Linked DNA regions of Homo sapiens. The protein of the gene in region 1 interacts with the protein of each later gene in a pairwise test. Each region holds a gene or a part of one and is shown on either strand. Other genes may lie near its edges.

Region 1 (3,500 bases):
AATGTTTGTGAGACGCACAGAGAAATGAATGAATGAATGAATAAACGAATGAATGAATGAACGAATGAATGAATGGACAAATGAATGAATGAATGAACGAATGAATGAATAAATGAATGAATAAAAGAATGAATGAATCAGTGAATAAACAAATGAATGAATGAATGAATGACTCCCTTCCCGGGCAGAAAGGGACAAGGCAGTCAGCCCTGCATTCTTCCCCCAATGAGGAATGTGGATGATGGAAGGTCAGGCCAGGACTGACAGCCAGGTCCCAGCCCCTTTGAACCCCTTGGTTTCTGCCTCAAAGGTAGGGACTTCCTGCCACCTCTGTCCTGACCCCATCCCCCACTGGTGTGTGTCCCACTCTGGCCCATGCAAGGGCAGCCTCATGCAGGCATCTTATTCCAGCAGAATCACGTGGGTTTCATGCATCCAGTCCCCCAGGGGCACTGCCACTAGGAAACGAGGGGCTTCATTTCCTGCCACACAGCGGGTGGGACAGACCCAGTCCCCAGCATTGCCCAGAAGCCATGGACCGCCAGCCGACCTCCAGCTCCCCTCAAGGCCCCATGGCTCAGGCCAGCCCTGGGGGGATGGAGTCCTCAATGCAGGCCAGCCCACCATTCACTTACCTGGTGGACCAGGGGGACCCCGGGGTCCTGGGACACCTGCCAGCACTGTGTCCACGATGGCAGAGGCCAGCCTTGAGTCTCCATCTGTGGGAAGAGCGGAGCGGCCAGGGGTCTGGTGGGGCAGACCTGGCAGTGCTGGGAGGCTGGTCCGGGGCACTGAGCCCTGAGCCAGGCCACACGAAGCCCAGGGGGGCTCCTCCCATCACCCTGGGGCCCGCTGCAGATACTGTTGCCCCCACTGCTCAGAGGAGCACGGAGAGGCCCAGACAAAGAGCAGGGAAAGCCAGGTCGGTCAGCTTCATATAAAACATAAATACCTTCTAGAACATTCCAGGCTCTTCAGACTCTGGGTCTGCCCTGCTCACTTCTCCAATGCCCCAGGCTGGCATCTTCTTCCAGGCTCCATCCCACAGGCCCATCCTGCTGCACCCAACTGGCTCACTCCTCCAGGAAGCCCTCCATGCCCACCCCTCTGAGCTGTGCCTGGGGAGTCTGATTACATCATGGCGACCACACTGCCTGGAGCAGGGGTGGAGTCTGTTTAACAACCCATCTCCCATGGCCCTCCAGGATGAGCCCCTCACCTGATTCACCCTGGCCAATCCTGAACCAGACCCAGGGCCCCAGGGCAATGCCATCACCTTCCTCATAAAACCCTTCCCCAGGCTGGGCACAGTGGCTCACACCTGTACTCCCAGCACTTTGGGAGGCTGAGGAGGGAGGATCACTTGAGGCCAGGAGTTCAAGACCAGCCTGCCCAACATAGTGAGACCACATCTCCAGACCAGCCTGGGCAACATTGTGAGACCCCATCTCCACTCAAAAAAAAAAAAAAAAATTAGTTAGATGTGGCGATACATGCCTAGGGTCCTAGCTACTCAGGAGGCTGAGGTGGGAGGATCCCTTGAGCCCAGGAGTGAGAGGCTGCAGGGAGCTATGATGGCGCCACTGCATTCCAGCCTGGGCAACAGACCCTATGTCAAAAAAAATTAAAGTAAAAATCTTCCCCAGTTGCCGGGACACTTAACCAGAAATGATGCTCCTCTCAGGGCTCACGGACTCCTCTGCCTGGCCTCCCACTACCTCATGGTCCCTTAGGCCCAGAGTCCTGGTCCCGTCCACTCTCTGCACCTCCTTGTCCCCACCTCCCAAGGTAGAAGTGGACATTTCTGTGTGTTCAGAGGCTCTCTTGGACTGGCCGGTGCCCCCGAGGGCCGGAGTTTGTTTTGCACATTGCTGTGTCCCCAGTGGCTAAAATCCTGTGCCTTGCACATAGTAGGTGCTCACTAAACACCTGCTGAATGACCTGCAGTGAGGGCGGGTGAGGAACAAGTACAATAAGGGATAACCTTGGTGGGGTGGGGTAGCCAGGTAGGGAATCTGGGCCAAGTCAGCCAGCAGAGTGAACTTTGGGGCTCACAACCCCAAAGGCAGGGAGCTGAGCACTGAGGCAGAGACAGGCCACTTTGGGGCCAAAAGCAGGGCTTGGGGCTAGCCCTGGGTCCACTTGAGGATGCTTAGCCCCAGGACCAAGCCTTGCTCCCAAGCTGTTCCCTGTCATCGTCACTGGCAGGCCCTGGACACTGCATGGAGGGCTTCCTGGAGGAGGCCTGCAGGAGTGAGCCAGTTGGGTGCAGCAGGATGGGCATGTGGTGGGGTCCACTTCCCAGGATCCTTTAAGGAAGGCTGATCCCTCCCAGAACACAGCGTAGCTCAGCCCTCCCTTGGCCCCCCAGGGGCATTACTCACTGTCTTTGTCTGTAGGCGGCTGCAGGGAGTAGAGGGCGCCCTGGGGGCTGTTTGGTGAGGGGCCTGGGTTGCCTGCTGGGCCGGGTGGTCCTGGGGGGCCGGGGCGCCCCATCTCTCCAGGAAGCCCACGGGGCCCTGGAGGCCCCAGGAGCCCTGCAATGAGGAAAAGAACAGTCACTGTGGCAGCCGGAGCCTGGCGGGTGGCTGCAACTTACAAATGGGGAAACTGAGGCCTTGAAAGAAACAGGGTTGGTCAGGGGCCCACAGGCAGTCAGTGGTGACCTCCGATCCACAGTCTTCCTTGGGGGTGTCCTGGGGTGTAAATGAAATGGGCTTCCCTTCCCAGCCCAGTCCAGAGGGGACACTTAGTGGCAGCTTGGGAGGGTGAGGGGGGCAGGGACGGTGAAATCAGCAAAGGCTCTGGCCAGAGGCCCATTGGTCCCTCCCAGGGACTTCAGCCCTGTGGCAGGAACACCAAGTATAAGCCACCATCCTGGGCTGGCCCTGTACCTGCTGAACCAGGGGTCCTTCCCCGGCAGGACCCAGGAGGAGTTGAGAGGGTGGTCTCTGGAGGTGTTTAAATGGCTGAGAACTGCTCCTGGCCCCTGACAGCCTCGATGCTCATGCCTGTACCCGAAGCCCCTGAAGACCCTGTTTTGGCCAGGTGTTGTGGCTCACCCCTGTAATCCCAGCACTTTGGGAGGCCAAGGCAGGCAGGTCACCTGAGGTCAGGAGTTCAAGACCAGCCTGGCCAACATGGTGAAACCCTGTCTCTACTAAAAATACAAAAATTAGCCAGGCATGGTGGCAGGCACCTGTAATCCTAGTTACTCAGTAGGCTGAGGCAGGACAGTTGCTTGAACCTGGGAGGTGGAGGTGTCAGTGAGCTGAGATTGTGCCACCGTGCTCCAGTCTGGGCGACACAGCACAAGACTCCATCTCAAAAAAAAAAAAAAAAAAAAGCCAGGTGAGGTGGTGGCTCACGCCTGTAATCCCAGCACTTTGGGAGGCCAAGGTGGGTGGATCATCTGAGGTCAGGAGTTCGAGACCAGCCTGACCAACATGGTGAAATCCTGTCTCTATTGAAAATACAAAATTAGCCAGGTGTGGTGGCGC
Region 2 (4,137 bases), about 49 Mb from region 1:
TTTGGTGCACATGTGGAACCAACATGGGACAAACAGGCATTTTGTGCTCGTCCAGGGAACATGACTTCTTCGGCTCCCACACAATTTGTAGCTGCAGGAGTGGCAGAGCACCAGAGTGGATGCAGGCCCAGATGTTCTCTGGGTTAGGTGTTAAGGACTTGTGGGAGTCATCAGGCAGCAGGCATTTGCCCCAGTGTCAGAGGTGTTTAAGCCAGAATTACTCCATCTTGAATAAGGGCTGGGTAAAATGAGGCTGCATTCATAGGAGGTTAGGCATTCTAAGTCACAGGATGAGACAGAAGGTTGGCACAAGATACAGGTCATACAGACCTTGCTGATAAAACAGGTTGCAGTAAAGAAGCTGGCTAAACGCCACCAAAACCAATATGGCAATGGGAGGGACCTCTGGTGGTCCTCACTGCTCATTATGCACTAATTATAATGCATTAGCATGCTAAAAGACACTCCCACCAGCAAGCACCATGACAGTTTACAGACGCCATGACACCATCATGAAATACTCTATATGGTCTAAAAAGGGGAGGAAGCCTCAGTTCCGGGAACTGCCCACCCCTTTCTCTGAAACTCATGAATAATTCAACCCTTGTTTAGCATATAATCAAGAAATAACCAAAAAATGGGTAACCAGTAGCCCTGGAGCTGCTCTGCCTATGGAGTAGCCATCCTTTTACTTCTTTGCTTTCTTAATAAACTTGTTTTCACTTTACTCTATGGGCTTGCCCTGAATTCTTTCTTGCATGAGATCCAAGAACCCTCTCTTAGGGCCTGGATCGGGACCCCTTTCTGATAACACCAGGAGACACCCTGGGTGGATTTCCTGAACCGACCGATAGATGAGCCTTCCACGCGGGAGACCTGGATCCTTATCGTCTTTGTGGCCCCTTCCATCTGCACGTGCGGACGAGGTCCGGGTCGCACTCGGGCGGTCAGCCTGGCACGCACAGCGCCGGCGTGCAGGGGGCCTTGGGTGCCACCGAGTCCGGGAGGAAATCTAGGCCGCCATCCGTCCGGAGACTGGCACCTGTGACCACCACCCAACATGTATTGAACAAGGGCTTGGAGGTCCTTTCTCTAAGGCCGCACCGATAAACGATTACCGACTGTTGACCTCACGGCCCCTTCGCTTCCGGCCGCACCGCCTCGCTGCCCACGCCTGCGCACTCAGGCACCGCAGGTAGGAGGAACGTACCAACTGCGAGGCGGGGGGTGCGCGCGAAGACCCCCGCAGGCTGCGCTTCCGGAAGTAACCCCTGGCGCATCCCGGAATCCAGAGCGCCCACTACGGCCTTTGGCCAGGCCCCCTGGGCGCGTTCCGGGAGCTCAGGCCTGCGGCGCTGGGAGAAGCACGCTGGCCAACAAGTTGGGTGGTGGGCACGCGGCCCAGGGGTCAGGGGCCGCCAGGCGGCGGGCGGCGGGGCTGCGGCTCTTACCTGCCGAGGAGGCGCCGGCTCTGCGGTGCGGAGTTGCGCCGGACTTCCCAGCTTGGCCAGTGGCTCCGCAGGCTGCCGGCTCCACCCCTCAGGTAAGCGGGGACTGGGCCGCCGAGGTTCAGGGAAGGGGGCGGCTGTCGGGGCCCGTGCCGGCCCCGGGGGGCCACCTGCTGGGCCAGCGGTGCCCTCGCGCCGAAACACACTGGGAGAGGCCAGAATCTTCCGGAACAGCCAGCCCTTACCCATCTCTCCCTCTGTGCCGAGAACTGCCCTGAAATACTGTGGTATTAATTAACTCGTTTAACACTAACAATCTCATGAGGCGGGTGCTGTTACTATTCCCGTAATGTAGACGAGGAAACCGAGGCGTGTGCTGGAGCAGGATCACGGCCGTGCTCAGAGACGGGCTCTGGATGCCATGCTCTGACTCCATTGTTAGCCCTAAGCTTCCAGAAAGTAGCAGAGTGCTGCCGTGTCGTTTGTAACAGATCTCACTTTGTGTCATTTTTTTTGCACAGTATGAAACCTAATGATGCATGATTATTATTTAAAACATCTTGCTTAGACTTTATAAGTAGTCAAATTTGCGTGTGGGACAAAACCCCAAAACATGCAATGGCTTGCTCTCCTCTTTTCCTTTCACACGTTCATCTCCTCCTATCCCTTTCTCTCACCACCTTTCAATCTTCTCACAGATGTTGTGGAGGAAGATGAGACTTGAGGGCCCAGCAGGTGCTTAAAATCCCCTGCCTGGTGGGGGTGGAGTAGACACTCTGTCCCCCTGCAGTGCTGGAGTTGAGAGCAGAGGGGCTGGAGAGGGACTGGGCGGAGTGAGAAAGGCCTGGCATAATCATGGAATGCCCAGGGTGGGGTTCTACTTCTCTTGCAGGCACAAGAGAAGTAGAAGAGTGGCCGCTTTCCTTCTGGGCACGCACTTGGGAAAAGGCTTGGTGAGAGCAGCGAGAAGAATAGGTCTAATTTCTTGAGCCAGTGTGCGGAGGTGCTTCCCAGCCCAGGCTAAGCCAGATCACTCAGCCAGCCGCTGGCTGCCTTTACAGATGTACGGCTCCCCGTGAGCAATCAACATGCCTGGCTCTCAGGCATAAGCTGCCTCACTTCCCTTCTGCACAGCACTCCAGGACTTGCCTGCTACCAGACCCATCCTACTTTCTCTGTCAGGAAAAATGAGAGTTCTTCCTGGTCTCTTGAGGCCAATCCCTTCCACCGCCTGTGCCCTGGATCCCTTTCTCCAGGAAGCTTCTCTTCCCTGTGTAGTTAGCCTCCCCGCTCTTCCCAGGTCACCTTCTCTCTGTTTAGGGACAGAGCCAAGCCTTTTCCCTCCCATCCCCACCTCCAGCATTCCCGGTTCCTGCTTCTCCCCCACTTCCTGCTGTACCGCCCACTGAAGGGACCTTTGACCCCGCTGACCACTGCTTTTGGAAAGTCTTTTCTTGGTTTCCCTAACTTCACTTTACTTTGGTTTTTCCTTGTCTCTCCCCTCTGCCTCTCAGTCACCTTTGAGATCTGCTCATCCTCTCACCTCCCTGTATTGTCAGCATTACCTGGGCAGCCCCCTCTGGTGTTTTCCTTCAGTTTCTCTAGAAACTTGCCTGAAGATTTGCCCCAAAATAGCCCACATGGACCTGTATGAGGAAAGAGGCTCACTGTGGAGGCGCTCTCCATCATTCCTCCTCTTCCACTTGAGGCTTAGGCATGGGCCACCTCCTGAACAGCTCTCCCCACAGTCTCCTCCATGCATTGTGCCATCACCCCGCCCTGCCGTCACCCCGGCCTGGCCCGCTTTCCCTTTTGCCTCCCAGGGATGTGCCTGCTTCCCATGTGGCCTGGCTAGGGCGCTTTCCTGACTGCTGCCCACATGATCGACTATGGGCAGGCGTGCAGCCCAAAAGGCCGTGCTTCAGCTTAGAAGCCCTTGGAATCTTGTCTTGTTGTGGTTGTAGGCCTCCAATGTGTTGTCAGCTGTGGTGATGTGTGTCACAAGTAACTTCTTTTTTTTGAGACAGGGTCTGGCTCTGTTGCTCAGGCTGGAATGCAGTGGTGCAATCACGGCTCACTGCAATCTCCACTTCCCTGCTCAAGCCATCTTCCTGCCTCAGACTGCCAAGAAGCTGGGACCACAGGCACAGGCCATCACAGCTGGCTGATTTTTTTGTATTTTTTTTGTAAAGACAAGGTTTCGCCATCTTGCCCAAGCTGGTCTCAACCCCCTGAGTTCAAAGCAGTCCACCCACCTTGGCTTCCCAAAGTGCTAGGATTACAGGCGTGAGCCACCACACCTGGCCACAAGTAACTTCTTAGTTATAAAGTACTGAAATTTATCAATGACTTTCTTTTTAAAATTTACGTTTTAGATTCATTTGGATTCAAGGTTGGCTCTCAACAGTGCCAGCTGCACTGTCATCCTAAAGTACTTCTGTGGAAGAGAACATGGTGGTGTCACTGTTGTACCAGTGATGACACAAAATCCCAGATCTACCTGACGGGCCTGCGAGGGTTGAAGATTGTGAAGCAATAGCCTAAGGTAAACAACACCTTGCAAGACGGGTCTAAGCTCTTCAGTGTAATAGACCCTGTTTCTCAGTAGGTCAGCCCGGGGGCCCCCCAGGGATCCCTCCCCGCCTCATAGCACCATACCCCACTTTCCCCCTGGTCTAATGATGAGCCC

Evidence for each region. Proteins that work in one complex are often made in the same cells at the same time.
Region 2: the proteins of COL26A1 (region 1) and LRRC61 interact in binary tests that used the Homo sapiens proteins (3 or more experiments, as listed by UniProt).

Annotation. Positions count from the first base shown.
Region 1 is NC_000007.14:101,544,375-101,547,874, reverse strand, and holds part of COL26A1 (collagen alpha-1(XXVI) chain isoform 1 precursor), read right to left. Parts: intron 2,538-3,500; coding exon 2,385-2,537; intron 720-2,384; coding exon 636-719; intron 1-635.
Region 2 is NC_000007.14:150,322,018-150,326,154, forward strand, and holds the start of LRRC61 (leucine-rich repeat-containing protein 61), read left to right. Parts: upstream 1-1,337; 5' UTR 1,338-1,543; intron 1,544-3,823; 5' UTR 3,824-3,993; intron 3,994-4,137.